Linked DNA regions of Homo sapiens: region 1 is linked to region 2. Evidence: fine-mapped expression QTL. Tissue or cell type: whole blood. Region 2 holds a variant in brackets; the other region holds the start of a gene. All regions are shown on one strand. Distances are between the middles of the regions.

Evidence for each region. PIP is the estimated chance that this variant, and not a neighbour inherited with it, causes the effect.
Region 1: it holds the start of WASHC1, and the variant in region 2 is fine-mapped to the expression of WASHC1 in whole blood (GTEx, PIP 0.97).

The regions. Positions count from the first base shown.
Region 1 is chr9:24,435-32,615 of GRCh38, forward strand. WASHC1 (WASH complex subunit 1) reads right to left here and starts at 5,022. Exons shown (of 11, transcript NM_001378090.1): 1 at 4,878-5,022; 2 at 417-570. The coding sequence starts at 565. It overlaps MIR1302-9HG (MIR1302-9 host gene), which reads left to right and starts at 5,225. Exons shown (of 3, transcript NR_197460.1): 1 at 5,225-5,448; 2 at 5,908-6,011; 3 at 6,324-6,457. It overlaps MIR1302-9 (microRNA 1302-9), which reads left to right and starts at 5,710; the gene lies at 5,710-5,847.
Region 2 is chr9:47,630-55,810 of GRCh38, forward strand. No RefSeq gene overlaps it. Among named protein-coding and RNA genes, the nearest start is that of FAM138C, 16 kb to the left of the region's middle. The variant A/G (reference allele first, on the strand shown) is at 4,852.

The sequences.
Region 1 (8,181 bases), 23 kb before region 2:
TCTCTCCTGCCAGAATGTGCGCTCCAGGTGGAGAGGTATGTTGCCTTATCCGTGGCTGGATATATAGAGATTCCCACACTGCCTTGCACACGAGCACTGCTGGGTAAATATTTGTTGGCTGCAGGAAAACGTGAAGGAATAGGCCCTCCAATGGGAGGAAAAGCATGAGTTGTGAGAGCAGAGCCACCACAGGAAACCAGGAGGCTAAGTGGGGTGGAAGGGAGTGAGCTCTCGGACTCCCAGGAGTAAAAGCTTCCAAGTTGGGCTCTCACTTCAGCCCCTCCCACACAGGGAAGCCAGATGGGTTCCCCAGGACCGGGATTCCCCAAGGGGGCTGCTCCCAGAGGGTGTGTTGCTGGGATTGCCCAGGACAGGGATGGCCCTCTCATCAGGTGGGGGTGAGTGGCAGCACCCACCTGCTGAAGATGTCTCCAGAGACCTTCTGCAGGTACTGCAGGGCATCCGCCATCTGCTGGACGGCCTCCTCTCGCCGCAGGTCTGGCTGGATGAAGGGCACGGCATAGGTCTGACCTGCCAGGGAGTGCTGCATCCTCACAGGAGTCATGGTGCCTGTGGGTCGGAGCCGGAGCGTCAGAGCCACCCACGACCAACGGCACGCCCCCACCACAGGGCAGCGTGGTGTTGAGACAACACAGCCCTCATCCCAACTATGCACATAGCTTCAGCCTGCACAGATAGGGGAGTAGGGGACAGAGCATTTGCTGAGAGGCCAGGAGCGCATAGATGGGACTCTGCTGATGCCTGCTGAGTGAATGAGGGAAAGGGCAGGGCCCGGGACTGGGGAATCTGTAGGGTCAATGGAGGAGTTCAGAGAAGGTGCAACATTTCTGACCCCCTACAAGGTGCTTGCTACCTGCCAGGCACCCTTTCCATACCTTGTCTCAGTTCAGCTCCCCACCTTGGATAAACAAGAAACCTTGGTTGCAGAGGAAAAAAGAGGCTGGAAACAAAGGGGTAGAAATGGGGTAGCAGGGGAGATTGCCTGATCAACTGCCAAATGGTACACAGTTCTGGAAAAGCACAAAAAATGTGCACACACGGGTTCTTCCCACTTTAACCCCTGAGGAATCTGAGGCCTGCTCCTGAAACAGACTGGGCAGTGGCTAGTGACTCTAGGTATAGGAGTATCCAGCCCTGCTCACCCAGGCTAGAGCTTAGGGGGACAAGAGGAAAGAGGTGCCTGTGGGGGTGGAGGACAGGAAGGAAAAACACTCCTGGAATTGCAAAGTGAGGGCAGAGTCTATTTATATTGGGTTTAATTAACTCCTCTCCCTGGTGCCACTAAAGCAGCAATCACACTGCAGACAGCACTGATTTGATTGGCAAGAGATGCACCAGGCAGAATATTAAGGGACCAGGCCCCTATAAATAGGCCTAATCACAGCCCCTCACTGGAAAATGGTAAGGAAGACATTAATCAGGCCTGGCACTGTGCCCTAGACCTGCTCCCCTAGGCACTACAGTGGGGCCCTTGGTTGCAACACAAGTAGGTATGGATGGATGAGTGTGGCATGAAGGGCCTAGGAGATTTCACTTGGGTTTAAAATGCTGTGACCTTGAGTAAGTTGCCGTCTCTGAATCTGATCCTTTCGATTTCCCATTCTCCAAACTGAGAACTAGCACTGCTGAGACGTGGTTATTTCCAATAATAATTTGTATATTTTACATAACGCACCACACCAACATCTTCACCCAGTTGGAGCCTACTCCTTTGCTCCCGCTGCTGGCTTCCCCAGCCCTCCCTTCTGCCCTCCTCAGGCCAGCACTTTTCAGTGAGTTCCTCCTTTGCATACAGGCTTTCCAGATCTGTACTTGCCTTGAATACTCATCAGAGCCCAGGAGTTACTCCTCACCTCCCACTTATTTTTCCTCCCATCAAATAACTAAAGCATGGCCAGCTGATGCCCAGCCAACTGAGAAACCCAACCCTCTGAGACCAGCACACCCCTTTCAAGCATGTTCCTCCCTCCCCTTCTTTGTATTTATACTGATGCAAGTTTGCTGGCTGTCCTAACTTATTTCTGTGCCTCAGTTCTCCCATATGTAAGATCACAAAGGGGGTAAAGATGCAAGATATTTCCTGTGCACATCTTCAGATGAATTTCTTGTTAGTGTGTGTGTGTTTGCTCACACATATGCGTGAAAGAAGAGTACATACACAGATCTCCTCAAAAAGGAGGCAGCAAGCCCGTTCAAGAATGGGACTGAATACACCTGATGAGTGGTTTACTTTCTGTCTGCAAACATCTACTGATCATCTGTTAGGTGCAGGCCATGATCACAACAAAGACGAATAAGACACTACACTAGCCAGGGAGAGTCTCAAAAACAACTAAACTCAAATTAAATTCATTCTACTCCAGTCATGGGTACAAAGCTAAGGAGTGACAAATCCCTCTTGGAGTTAGGGGAGTCAGGAAAAAGCTCTTAGCAGAATGTGTGCCTCTCGGCCGGGCGCAGCGGCTCACGCCTGTAATCCCAGCACTTTGGGAGGCGAAGGCAGGCAGATCACCTGAGGTCGGGAGTTCGAGACCAGTCTGACCAACATGGTGAAACTCCATCTCTACTAAAAATACAAAATTAGCCAGGCGTGGTGGTGCAGGCCTGTAATCCCCGCTACTCGGGAGGCTGAGGAAGGAGAATCACTTGAACCGGGAAGGTGGAGGTTGCAGTGTGCCAAGATCGCGCCATGGCACTCCAGCCTAGGCAACGAGGGTGAACCAGGTCCAGGAAGAAGGTGCAAAGACAGCATTCCAGGTAAAAGAAACAGCTTGAACAAAAAGTGTGTAGGGGAACCGCAAGCGGTCTTGAGTGCTGAGGGTACAATCATCCTTGGGGAAGTACTAGAAGAAAGAATGATAAACAGAGGCCAGTTTGTTAAAAACACTCAAAATTAAAGCTAGGAGTTTGGACTTGTGGCAGGAATGAAATCCTTAGACCTGTGCTGTCCAATATGGTAGCCACCAGGCACATGCAGCCACTGAGCACTTGAAATGTGGATAGTCTGAATTGAGATGTGCCATAAGTGTAAAATATGCACCAAATTTCAAAGGCTAGAAAAAAAGAATGTAAAATATCTTATTATTTTATATTGATTACATGCTAAAATAACCATATTTGGGATATACTGGATTTTAAAAATATATCACTAATTTCATCTGTTTCTTTTTACTTTTAGAAATCACATATGTGACTTAAATATTTCTTTTCTTTTTCTTTCCTCTCACTCAGCGTCCTGTGATTCCAAAGAAATGAGTCTCTGCTGTTTTTGGGCAGCAGATATCCTAGAATGGACTCTGACCTAAGCATCAAAATTAATCATCATAACGTTATCATTTTATGGCCCCTTCTTCCTATATCTGGTAGCTTTTAAATGATGACCATGTAGATAATCTTTATTGTCCCTCTTTCAGCAGACGGTATTTTCTTATGCTACAGTATGACTGCTAATAATACCTACACATGTTAGAACCATTCTGACTCCTCAAGAATCTCATTTAACTCTTATTATCAGTGAATTTATCATCATCCCCTATTTTACATAAGGAAATGGGGTTAGAAAGACCAAATAACATTTTTTCAACATCAAAACACTAGCTTGAGATCAAGCCCAGACTTGGATCTGTCGTCTGAATTCCAAGCTTTTTGTTATTTATTGATATGTTTTGTTGTTTTCATGCAATAATGCAAATATTAGCCCAAACATTTTGTTAGTAGTACCAACTGTAAGTCACCTTATCTTCATACTTTGTCTTTATGTAAACCTAAATTAGATCTGTTTTTGATACTGAGGGAAAAACAAGGGAATCTAACACTAACCAGCCCGTAGTGTGTGGTCAACACTTTCGTTACTTTAGTATACATCACCCCAATTGTTTGTCTTCACCACACACTTTGGAGTTAGGTAGTAGTATCTATTTTTACAAATAAGAAAACCCAGGCACAAAGGGGTTGATTAGCAATTATCTTTTGAAAAGCCTGTAGTTGCTCATCTGAAGAAGTGACGGACCACCTCTTATTTAGTGGACAGACAGTAACTAGTTGAGAAGACAGGGGATTTTGTTGGCGGAAAAAAAATTTTATCAAAAGTCGTCTTCTATCAGGGAGTTTTATGAGAAACCCTAGCTCCTCAGTTCCACAGTGGGTAACTGTAATTCATTCTAGGTCTGCGATATTTCCTGCCTATCCATTTTGTTAACTCTTCAATGCATTCCACAAATACCTAAGTATTCTTTAATAATGGTGGGTTTTTTTTTTTTTTTGCATCTATGAAGTTTTTTCAAATTCTTTTTAAGTGACAAAACTTGTACATGTGTATCGCTCAATATTTCTAGTCGACAGCACTGCTTTCGAGAATGTAAACCGTGCACTCCCAGGAAAATGCAGACACAGCACGCCTCTTTGGGACCGCGGTTTATACTTTCGAAGTGCTCGGAGCCCTTCCTCCAGACCGTTCTCCCACACCCCGCTCCAGGGTCTCTCCCGGAGTTACAAGCCTCGCTGTAGGCCCCGGGAACCCAAAGCGGTGTCAGAGAAGTGGGGTCCCCTACGAGGGACCAGGAGCTCCGGGCGGGCAGCAGCTGCGGAAGAGCCGCGCGAGGCTTCCCAGAACCCGGCAGGGGCGGGAAGACGCAGGAGTGGGGAGGCGGAACCGGGACCCCGCAGAGCCCGGGTCCCTGCGCCCCACAAGCCTTGGCTTCCCTGCTAGGGCCGGGCAAGGCCGGGTGCAGGGCGCGGCTCCAGGGAGGAAGCTCCGGGGCGAGCCCAAGACGCCTCCCCGAGCGCGGCTCCAGGACCCCGTCGACCCGGAGCGCTGTCCTGTCGGGCCGAGTCGCGGGCCTGGGCACGGAACTCACGCTCACTCCGAGCTCCCGACGTGCACACGGCTCCCATCCGTTGTCTTCCGAGCGTCAGGCCGCCCCTACCCGTGCTTTCTGCTCTGCAGACCCTCTTCCTAGACCTCCGTCCTTTGTCCCATCGCTGCCTTCCCCTCAAGCTCAGGGCCAAGCTGTCCGCCAACCTCGGCTCCTCCGGGCAGCCCTCGCCCGGGGTGCGCCCCGGGGCAGGACCCCCAGCCCACGCCCAGGGCCCGCCCCTGCCCTCCAGCCCTACGCCTTGACCCGCTTTCCTGCGTCTCTCAGCCTACCTGACCTTGTCTTTACCTCTGTGGGCAGCTCCCTTGTGATCTGCTTAGTTCCCACCCCCCTTTAAGAATTCAATAGAGAAGCCAGACGCAAAACTACAGATATCGTATGAGTCCAGTTTTGTGAAGTGCCTAGAATAGTCAAAATTCACAGAGACAGAAGCAGTGGTCGCCAGGAATGGGGAAGCAAGGCGGAGTTGGGCAGCTCGTGTTCAATGGGTAGAGTTTCAGGCTGGGGTGATGGAAGGGTGCTGGAAATGAGTGGTAGTGATGGCGGCACAACGGTGTGAATCTACTTAATCCCACTGAACTGTATGCTGAAAAATGGTTTAGACGGTGAATTTTAGGTTATGTATGTTTTACCACAATTTTTAAAAAGCTAGTGAAAAGCTGGTAAAAAGAAAGAAAAGAGGCTTTTTTAAAAAGTTAAATATATAAAAAGAGCATCATCAGTCCAAAGTCCAGCAGTTGTCCCTCCTGGAATCCGTTGGCTTGCCTCCGGCATTTTTGGCCCTTGCCTTTTAGGGTTGCCAGATTAAAAGACAGGATGCCCAGCTAGTTTGAATTTTAGATAAACAACGAATAATTTCGTAGCATAAATATGTCCCAAGCTTAGTTTGGGACATACTTATGCTAAAAAACATTATTGGTTGTTTATCTGAGATTCAGAATTAAGCATTTTATATTTTATTTGCTGCCTCTGGCCACCCTACTCTCTTCCTAACACTCTCTCCCTCTCCCAGTTTTGTCCGCCTTCCCTGCCTCCTCTTCTGGGGGAGTTAGATCGAGTTGTAACAAGAACATGCCACTGTCTCGCTGGCTGCAGCGTGTGGTCCCCTTACCAGAGGTAAAGAAGAGATGGATCTCCACTCATGTTGTAGACAGAATGTTTATGTCCTCTCCAAATGCTTATGTTGAAACCCTAACCCCTAATGTGATGGTATGTGGAGATGGGCCTTTGGTAGGTAATTACGGTTAGATGAGGTCATGGGGTGGGGCCCTCATTATAGATCTGGTAAGAAAAGAGAGCATTGTCTCTGTGTCTCCCTCTCTCTCTCTCTCTCTCTCTCTCTCTCATTTCTCTCTATCTCATTTCTCTCTCTCTCTCTATCTCATTTTTCTCTCTCTCTCTTTCTCTCCTCTGTCTTTTCCCACCAAGTGAGGATGCGAAGAGAAGGTGGCTGTCTGCAAACCAGGAAGAGAGCCCTCACCAGGAACCTGTCCAGCTGCCACCTTGAACTTGGACTTCCAAGCCTCCAGAACTGTGAGGGATAAATGTATGATTTTAAAGTCGCCCAGTGTGTGGTATTTTGTTTTGACTAATACAACCTGAAAACATTTTCCCCTCACTCCACCTGAGCAATATCTGAGTGGCTTAAGGTACTCAGGACACAACAAAGGAGAAATGTCCCATGCACAACGTGCACCCATGCCTGGGTAAAGCAGCCTGGCACAGAGGGAAGCACACAGGCTCAGGGATCTGCTATTCATTCTTTGTGTGACCCTGGGCAAGCCATGAATGGAGCTTCAGTCACCCCATTTGTAATGGGATTTAATTGTGCTTGCCCTGCCTCCTTTTGAGGGCTGTAGAGAAAAGATGTCAAAGTATTTTGTAATCTGGCTGGGCGTGGTGGCTCATGCCTGTAATCCTAGCACTTTGGTAGGCTGACGCGAGAGGACTGCTTGAGCCCAAGAGTTTGAGATCAGCCTGGGCAATATTGTGAGATTCCATCTCTACAAAAATAAAATAAAATAGCCAGTCATGGTGTCACACACCTGTAGTCCCAGCTACATGGGAGGCTGAGGCGGGAGGATCACTTGAGCTTGGGAGATCGAGGCTGCAGTGAGCTATGATTGTACCACTGCACTCCAGGCTGGGCGACAGAGAGAGACCCTGTCTCAGAAAAAAAAAAAAAAGTACTTTGTAATCTGTAAGGTTTATTTCAACACACACAAAAAAAGTGTATATGCTCCACGATGCCTGTGAATATACACACACACCACATCATATACCAAGCCTGGCTGTGTCTTCTCACAAATGCACTGCTAGGCACCACCCCCAGTTCTAGAATCACACCAGCCAGTTCACCCTCCAGATGGTTCACCCTCAACTTCATAAAAGTTCCCTACCTAATCTACTGACAGGCTCATCCCCGACCTAATTTTAAAGATTTCCTAGGAGCTGCAATGGGAATCCTGGACCTCAGCCTGGACAAAGAACAGCTGCAGGTCATTCTCATGTGTGGACACAGAAGCTCTGCCTGCCTTTGCTGGCCAGCTGGGCTGAGCGGGCCTGGGAATTAAGGCTGCAGGGTTGGTCCCAGGCAGTCTTGCTGAAGCTTGCCACATCCCCCAGCCTCCTGGATTTGCCAGGATCCAAGAGCATGGACTTTAGGAATTCCTGGTGGAGGAGTGAAGAAAATGTGACAGGGTGTCCTAAGCCCCGATCTACAGGAAGAAAACTGGAAATAAGACTGAGGACTTAGTTTAAGATGTTCCTACTCAGCCTCTAGCTTTTGTGCTACAGTTCTGGGAACAGACTCCTCTCTCCTGAAAACCACTTCCCTCCGCAGCATTAAATTTCACCAAGATGTCTTGCTTGTGGGAAAGACTTCCAAGGATGCCTGGAGAGAGGAGGATGGAAATGTCCTGCTCTCTAAACAGATAGACAGATGCAGCCAGACAGAAAATAGTTTATCTTGCTGAGGTTTCTAATGTATTTGAAAGAGGCCTGGGTCTAGAAGTCTACCCAGAGGGCTCTGTGTTGTGCACGCAAAGATAAGAACCTTCCCTGTGGGAGTTCCAGAGCCAATTTTCCTAAACACCCATCGGTGACTGTGTTCAGAGTGAGTTCACACCATCCTGACCTGCCCTGAGTTAGACCTTACATGGTCTTCCTCCTCTAGGAAGCCTCTGCAGCCCAGGAACCTCCCCTTATCGGAAATGAACAGCATTTGAAGCTTCACCCGACAGACCAGACAGCTTAGCCCTCGTGTTGTGCCATGTGGGTTGTTCTC
Region 2 (8,181 bases):
TGAGAATCACAAAGCCCAAGAGCCAGGAGACCTGGGTTCAAAATCTGGCTTTGTGTGAGCCTGGGCAAGTGATATCTTCTCTCTGGGCCTCATTATCTGCTCCATTAAATAAGAAAAGGAACTAGTTAAGTGGCCTAAAAGCAATGTTTCCCAGGAGCTCTGATGTCTCAGGAATTGCACTGGTTGGGACAGGGGAGATTCTCCCCAGCTTCAGTCAGCAGTAATAATAATAACAGGAGGCCGGGTGCGGTGGCTCACGCCTGTAATCCCAGCACTTTGGGAAGCCAAGGGGGGTGGATCACAAGGTCAGGAGATCGAGACAATCCTGGCCAACATGGTGAAACCCTGTCTCTACTAAAAATACAAAAATTAGCTGGGCATGGTGGCGTGTGCCTGTACTCCCAGCTACTTGGGAGGCTGAGGCAGGAGAATCACCTGAACCTGGGAGGTGGAGGTTGCATGAGCCAAGATCGCACCACTGCACTCCAGCCTGGCAACAGAGTGAGGCTCCGTCTCAAATAATAATAATAGGAAACATTTACAGAGTACCCACTGCCCCAGGTGCCATCATAAATGCTTCACATACATTCACTCATGCAGTAGTCACGATATTCCTATGAGATGGGTTTCAACTTCTATGCCCATCATCAGATGAGAAACTGAAGTGCTGAATGTCTAAGTGACTACTCAAGGTCACACAGCTAGTAAATGACAAGGCAAGGATTCGAGCCTTTGTAGTCTGGCTCTAGGGTGTGTCTGCTTAACTACACTATTCCCATTGTTTTACCTCCCTCCCTCCCACCAACCCATCCATTCACCCACCCATTCATCCAAACATCCACCCATACATCCATCCATCTGCCCACCCACCTATGCATCCATCTCGAGTTTCATGTAAGAGTTTATTTAATAAAGGAATTCTGAAGAATGATAAAAAATAAAAACTTGAAAACTACTCAAGATTGCTATTTAAACTGCAAAAGTCCTCAGGGGTGGGGTTCTATGACTCACATTGCACTTAGAATAAAGAGAAATTCTTTTTATACAATATAAGTTCCTGCAGAATGCAGACACTTTCTACTTCTCCAGCCTCTTTTCGACTCCTCTCCTACTGGCTTCTGTATTTAAGCCACATTAGACCTTTCTTCAGTTTTTATATCGACTTTGTTGCATCACACCTCAGAGATTCTGTACATGTTCTTCCTCCTGCCTAGAAAGGGTCGTCCCTCCACTTTCGCCAACTAATCCCTGCTCAACTTTTCATCTCAGCAGGAGGCCCATTCTGTTTGGCAATCCTCTGGCCTCCAGCCCATTTATTATATACTCACATGTCAACATGTACTTCGTACAGCATGTAACACAATTGCACTTTTATATTTTAACAAATTACATTTCCCATATTGAACTGTAAGTCTCCTGAAAGCAGGAATTTTGTTCTTGCTCATCATCAACTTTTTCAACATCCAGTGCACCATTTAGAACTTAGATGTAGTCAATACAGGTTTGTGGAATGAAAGAGGAAAAGAAAGAATTAATATTCCTTTAAATTAGGATGGCAAAGATCGTATATAGAAAATTGGCTACGTTGTGGTCCATTCATGTTTGCTCCCAATTAAGGAGCACAGCTATGAAAAGGAAGGCTTCAAATTAATAACCAATAGATTTTTTAAAAAAGAAAACTGGCCAGGTACTGTGGCTTATGTCTGTAATATCAGCATGTTGGGAGGCCAAGGCAGGATTACTTGAGCCCAGAAATTCCAGACCAGCCTGAGAATTTGGCAAAACTCTGTCTCTACAAAAAATACAAAAATTAGCCAAGTTTGGTGGCATGTGCCTGTAGTACCAGCTACTTGGGAGGCTGAGGTGGAAGAATAGCTTGAGTCTGGGAGGTCAAGGCTGCAATGAGCTGTGATCGCACCACTGCACTCAAGCCTGGGTGGTAGAGTAAGACCCTGTCTCAAAAAAAAAAAAAAAAAAGAAAAATCACTAAGCAAAATAAGACATGTGAAGGATCATGTCAAAGGTAAGAAAAATTAGGGGAACATTAAAAGCTTTCTTCCCAAGCCACTAAATCAACTTGACTAACAAAATTACCACTTGATTTAGCATTAGAAAATTACATTACATATCAAACATAAACCCATTAATCAAATACTAAAGAAATTTCTGAGTTAAATGGTATAATGTTAGCTTATGCCAGAGCTGACCTTGAAAGATTGTTCAAATATGGCTCAGTGTGACTGAAAGTTCTGTGTGAATATGTTTTTGGAAAGATCCAACAGCAACACCTTAGTGTATGTTTTTGAAATAAAATGTATCTGAGTAGCAGCAAAGTTATCCATTTCTTCTAGGTCCTCCAATTTGTTGGCATAAAATTGTTCATAATAATCCCTTATGAGCATTTTTATTTCTGAGGTATCTATTGCAATGTCTCCACTTTCATTTCTGATTTTATTTGAGTCTGCTTTTTTTAGTGAATCTAGCTAGGAGTTTGTAGATTTTATTTTTTCAAAGAACCAACTTTTGATTTTATTTATATTTTCTATAGTTTTACTATACTACATTTTGTTTGCTTTTGTTCTGATCTTCATTATTTCCTTCCTTTTGCTCACTTTGGGTTTAGTTTGTTCTTTCTTTAGCTCCCTGGGGCATAGTGTTAGTCTACTTATTTAGATCTTTTTCCTTTTTTAATCTAGGCATTTATTGCTATAAACTTCTCTCTTAGAACTGACTTTGCTGCATACTGTAGGTTTTGATACATTGTGTTTCCATTGTCATTAATCTCAAAATATTTTTTAATTTCCCTCTTGATTTCTTCTTTGACCCGTTAGTTCATCATAAGCATGTTGTTTAGTTTCCACATATTTGTAAATTTTCCAAGATTCCTCCCGTTATTGATTTTTAGCTTCACACCATTGTGGTTGGAAACAATACTAGAAGTGATTTCAACCTTTTTGAATTTGTTAAGGTTTATTTTGTGGCCTAACATATGGTCTATCCTGGAGAATGTTCTATGTATGCTAGAGAAGAATGTATATTCTGCTGTTGTTGGATGAATGTAGGTCTGGTAGGTCCATATGGTCTGAAGTATAGTTCAAATTTAGTGTTGTCTTGTTAATTTTTTGTCTGGTTGATCTCTCCATTGTTGCAAGTGGAGTACTGAAGTCCCCTATTAGTGTTATATTGCTGTATATTTCTTCCTTCATGTCCACTAATATTTGCTTTACATATTTAAGTGCTTCAATTTTGGATGCATATATGTTTACAATTGTTATGTCCTCTTGATAAGATGACCTCTTTATCATTAAATCATGACCTTCTTTGTCTCTTGGAACAGCTTTTTACTGGAAGTCTGTTTTATCTGCTATAAGTATAGGCATCCCTGCTCTCTTTTGGTAACTGTCTGTTTTCATGGAATATCTCCTTCTATCCCTTTACTTTCAGTATATGCCTATTCTTAAAGTTTAAAAATGGGTCTCTTGTAGGCAGCATCTAGTTGGATCTTGTTGTTGATCCACTCAGCCATTCTATATCTTTTGATTGGACAGTTTAACCCATGTACCAGCAAGGTTATTATTGATAGTAAAAGACTTACTCCTGCCATTTTGCTAATTGTTTTCTGGTTACTTTGTAGATAATTTGTTCTCTTCTTCCTCTATTGTTGTCTACCTTTGTGGTTTGGTGGTTTAGTTTTCTGCTTTGTGGTTACAATATTGTTTTTTAAATATTCAACATGAATACACTTTCTTGTTTGGATAACGTGTAAAACGTCTACAAGGAGGGATAGATAATAAGTTTTCCCTTCAGAATGCACTGCTTTGCCTGGGATGAGGAATAATTTATAATGGTAACTGTTGCTGGTTAAAATTTGGCTCCTACCCACATTCATGCAAACTCAGCATTCTAGATTAAAAGAGATTTAAGAGACTTGCCAAGCAAATGCATGGCATCCTTAGATGTATCCTGATTTGAATAAAACAGCTATAAATAATAATATTTTGGGGATTATTGAAAAATTTGACTATAGATTAGTTTTCAGGTGATATTGGAGAATTAATGTTATTATTGTTAGGTATGTTAGCACGGTCATGCAGCAACGTGTCTTTCTTTTTAAGAGATGCATACAAAAATATTTGGGTGTGAAATGTTCTCGTGCTATAATTTGCTTTAAAATTCTTCAGAAAAAAAAAGATAAGCAAAATAGAAAAACAAGATAATGGGTACATGTTATCTATTTCTTATTCTCCCTATTTTTTTGTGTGTTCAATTTTTAAAAGAAATTTACTCCATACATATATCCCACCCCCTCCACTAAGGACCCCCAAACTATAAATTGCTGTGAATATAAGAAAAAGTGAAACAATTCTATGATTTTGAGAGAAAGTCAACACTGTAGGAAAAAGAGAGCCCAGGATTTGGGCTAAAAATCATTAATCTGACCCTGATCAACCCTGTGGCCTTCAGCAGTAACTGAGCCTGTCAGGCCTTTGATTTGTTGATGTGTAAAATGAGGGTCATTGTCATTTAGACAACGACCTTCAGGGTATGTTTTAATGTTAAAATTCAGAGTCCTTCCATATCAGATAAGCATCAACTATTCAATAGTTTATGCTGAAGAGTACAGGGGACCAAGAGACCACCCAAATGGGTTCATGAGCCCATCATGCCACTTCTTTGTTGGATCACTTTGGGCACCTCACTAAATTTTTCTGAGCTAGGTCCTCTGCACCTTGCTTGTCTATCATCAAAGGGTCACTGTGAGACTATAATAATATAAGAGGAAAGGAATCGTGATTATTAAGGCATATACTGAACCACATACCTCCATTGGCAACATTAAACTTCACTCCA[A/G]ACTCTCCCCCTGGTCCTCCAGGGCAGTGGCTGGCTGTTAGAATGATTCCACCAGCTGCCTTGATCTTCCTGATAATGCAGGAGACCGCAGGTGTCGACAAGACGCCATTCTGTCCAATAATCAGTCGTCCAATCTAAACCATCCAAAAAAAAAAAAAAATCAATCCAGTTGCTTGGGATTAAAGGCATTTCAACAGGAAAGTGCCCCAGGCTCTGTTAACATACAGCCAATCACTTGATAAAAGAAACAGAGTAGGCTTTAGATTAGGGGAGGCAGGGTAGGGGGAGCACTGACATTGTCTCTCCTATCTAATGTCTCTAAGACCATTTGGTGCACCTGCATCTAGCAGTCAATTATTAACCTGTAAATAGGATATGCCTCACTGATCTTCAGTCGTTTGAAACATCTGCTTCTGATAATCGAGGAGTTAGCTTGAATCACACAAGAAGTTCTTAGTTTGCTACTGACTCAGAAACTATGCATGTGAACATGCTAGAGATTACAAGAAAAAAGAAATGGAGTGCTTCTCTGCTTCTTCTGCTTCCTGTAACTTAGAACAAGCTCAGAGAGCAAGGGGACTGATTTACTACAACCTCATCATCTGTAGGCATATTTTAACTGTAATCTTCAGGAATGACTTTTCTCCTGAAAGTAGGAATTCTCTTTCTGCTGTTAAGTGACAGCATGTGCTGGAGACATTGGAGAAATTACCCAGTCATGCTAAGCAGAGATCTGGAGGTCATCCATGGATGCAGCCAGATTCTTTCTAGAGCTACAAAACTGACTTTCTAAAAAGTCAGCAACACAGCGCTGAAGAACATTTATTGCTACATCTTGTTTTAAAATTGGATTCAATATCATCCAATCTAGTAGTTCTCAATATTTCTACAAAATAGAATCACTTATGAAGCTTTTCAAAATCCTAGTACTCAAACTGCATTCTAGACTGATGATATTGCAATCTCTGGGGTTGAGAGCCCAGCATTAGTAGTTTTAAAGCTCCACAGATGATTCCAATGTTCAGCCAAGCTCAGTAATAAAGCCCCCTTGTTACTCAAAGGGCTGGCAGCATGGGCATCACCTGCAAGCTTGATAGAAATGCAGAACCTCAGCTGGGCATGGTGGCTCCACCTGAAATCCCAGCACTTTGGGAGGCTGAGGTGGGCAGATCACTTGAGCTCCAGAGTTCGAGACCAGCCTGGTCAATGTGGTGAAACCCTATTTCTACTAAAAATACAAAAATTAGCTGAGCATGGTGGTGCACGCCTGTAGTCCCAGCTACTCCGGAGGCTGAGGTGGGAGAATTGCTTGAACCTGGGAGGCAGAGGTTGCAGTGAGCTAAGATGGCACCACGGCACTCCAGCCTGGGCTACAGAGTGAGACTCTGTCTGAAGGAAGGAAGGAAGGAAGGAAAGGAAGGAAGGAAGGAAGGAAGGAAAGGAAGGAAGGAAGGAAAGAAAGGAAGGAAGGAAAGAAAGAAAGAAAGAAAGGAAGGAAAGAAAGAAAGAGAGAAAGAAAGAAAGAGAAAGAAAGAAAAAAGAAAAAGAAAGAAAGAGAAAGAAAAAAGAGAAAGAAAGAAATAGAAAGAAAAAGAAAGAAAGAGAAAGAAAGAAATGCAGAACCTCAAGCCCCACCCAAGGCCTACTGAATAAGAACCTGTATTTTAATAAGATCCTCTCCTCTCTTCCCAGATAATTCATTTGATAAGTACTGATATAACCAACAAGCCAAAACAAACCTTAACATACAGTTCAACAACAAAGTTGCCCTGGCACCATCATTGCTAGAGGTCAGTCACTGACCAAATATAACAATCAGCGAGATCAGGGGAAAAAAAATTACAGAAGAGATCAAAACACACACACACACACACACACAGAGCTCAAAAGCAAAGTGGCCTTGGGATGATTTAGTATGGAAATCCACAAGATCCCCAGGCTACATATTTTCAAGTAGAGGAGACAGATTATAAACAAATAAGCAATAATAATAATAGTTACTAGTGAGGTACATATTAGGAAGGAATTAGACTGCTGTAATAGAGAATAAAGGATGTCAATTTTAATAATGAGATAATAATAATAGCTAAGGGAGCTTAGATTTTATTCTAAGTACAACCAGAATCCATTGAAAGGTTTTAAACAGTGGAAGTGACCTGATGGCATTTTTAAACATCATGGGCTGAGCAGCCCAAATGTTCCTATTAAAAAGTAAGTCACATCAAGTCACTAAAACATTCCAATAGCTTTCCTTGTCCCCCACCAACCCAAAACAAAGCCAAAGTCTTCATTGTAGTCTACAAGGCCCTACATAATCTGACCTCCATCATGTACCATTCTCCATCACCCTCCCCTCCCGCCCTCCTCCTTCTGTTCCAGCCACAACGGAACAGAACAGCTATTCCTCAAACATACCAAACACGATCCTGCCTCAGGGCCCTTGCATTTTCTTTTTCCTCTGCTTAGAATACTTGCCCAGATATTAACATACCTGCCCTCTACTGTCTTTTGGGTTTCTGTTTCAATGTAAGCTAATCAGAGATAGCACCCTTGACAGCCCTATATAATACTATAGCCAGAAGTCCCTAACTTTTCTATTGTTTCCTATTTCCTTCACCGTGCTATAATTTTCTGGATCACATATGTTGCCTTTAACATTTTCCATATTATTTATTTTCCCACTGTATGTAAAGCCCAAGGACTTTTCACTGCTATATCCCAAGAACCTAAAATAAATCTGGCATGTGGTAAGCGTACAATAAATATTTGTTGAATTAATGAATGGAGAATAATGAATGCATGATGAATGGCTTCTCTGGGAGAAATACCTTGAAGGGGGGCAAGAGCAGAAAGAGGAATATCAGACGGGAGACTCTTCAAGTCAAGTGTTGATAGAGTCTTGGACTAGGCTAGAGCCAACAGAAATGAAAATTAGTCATTTGGTTTGAGATACATTTTTGGAAGGAGGATCAACAGAATATGCAGGTGGGCTGGAATATGGAAGAGAGGGGCTGTGGTAAATAGCCTCCAAAATGGCCCCAATGGTCCTTGCCTTTTGGCATTTGTGCCTTTTTGTGGTCCCCTCCCACACTGAACGATGCAGATCTGGGTAATCAGTATATATTGCAGAAGTGATTGTGTGTGACTTCCATGGTGAGGCCATAAATGGCATGGACACTTCTGCCCTGCTCTCTTGGACAGCTTATTTTGGGATAGGCCAGCCGCCATGTCATGAAGACACTCAAGAAGCCCTGTGAAGAGGAAGCAAGGCCTGCCAACAACAGCCAGCACCAACTTTCCAGCCAAGGGATTGAGCCATCTCACAGTGGA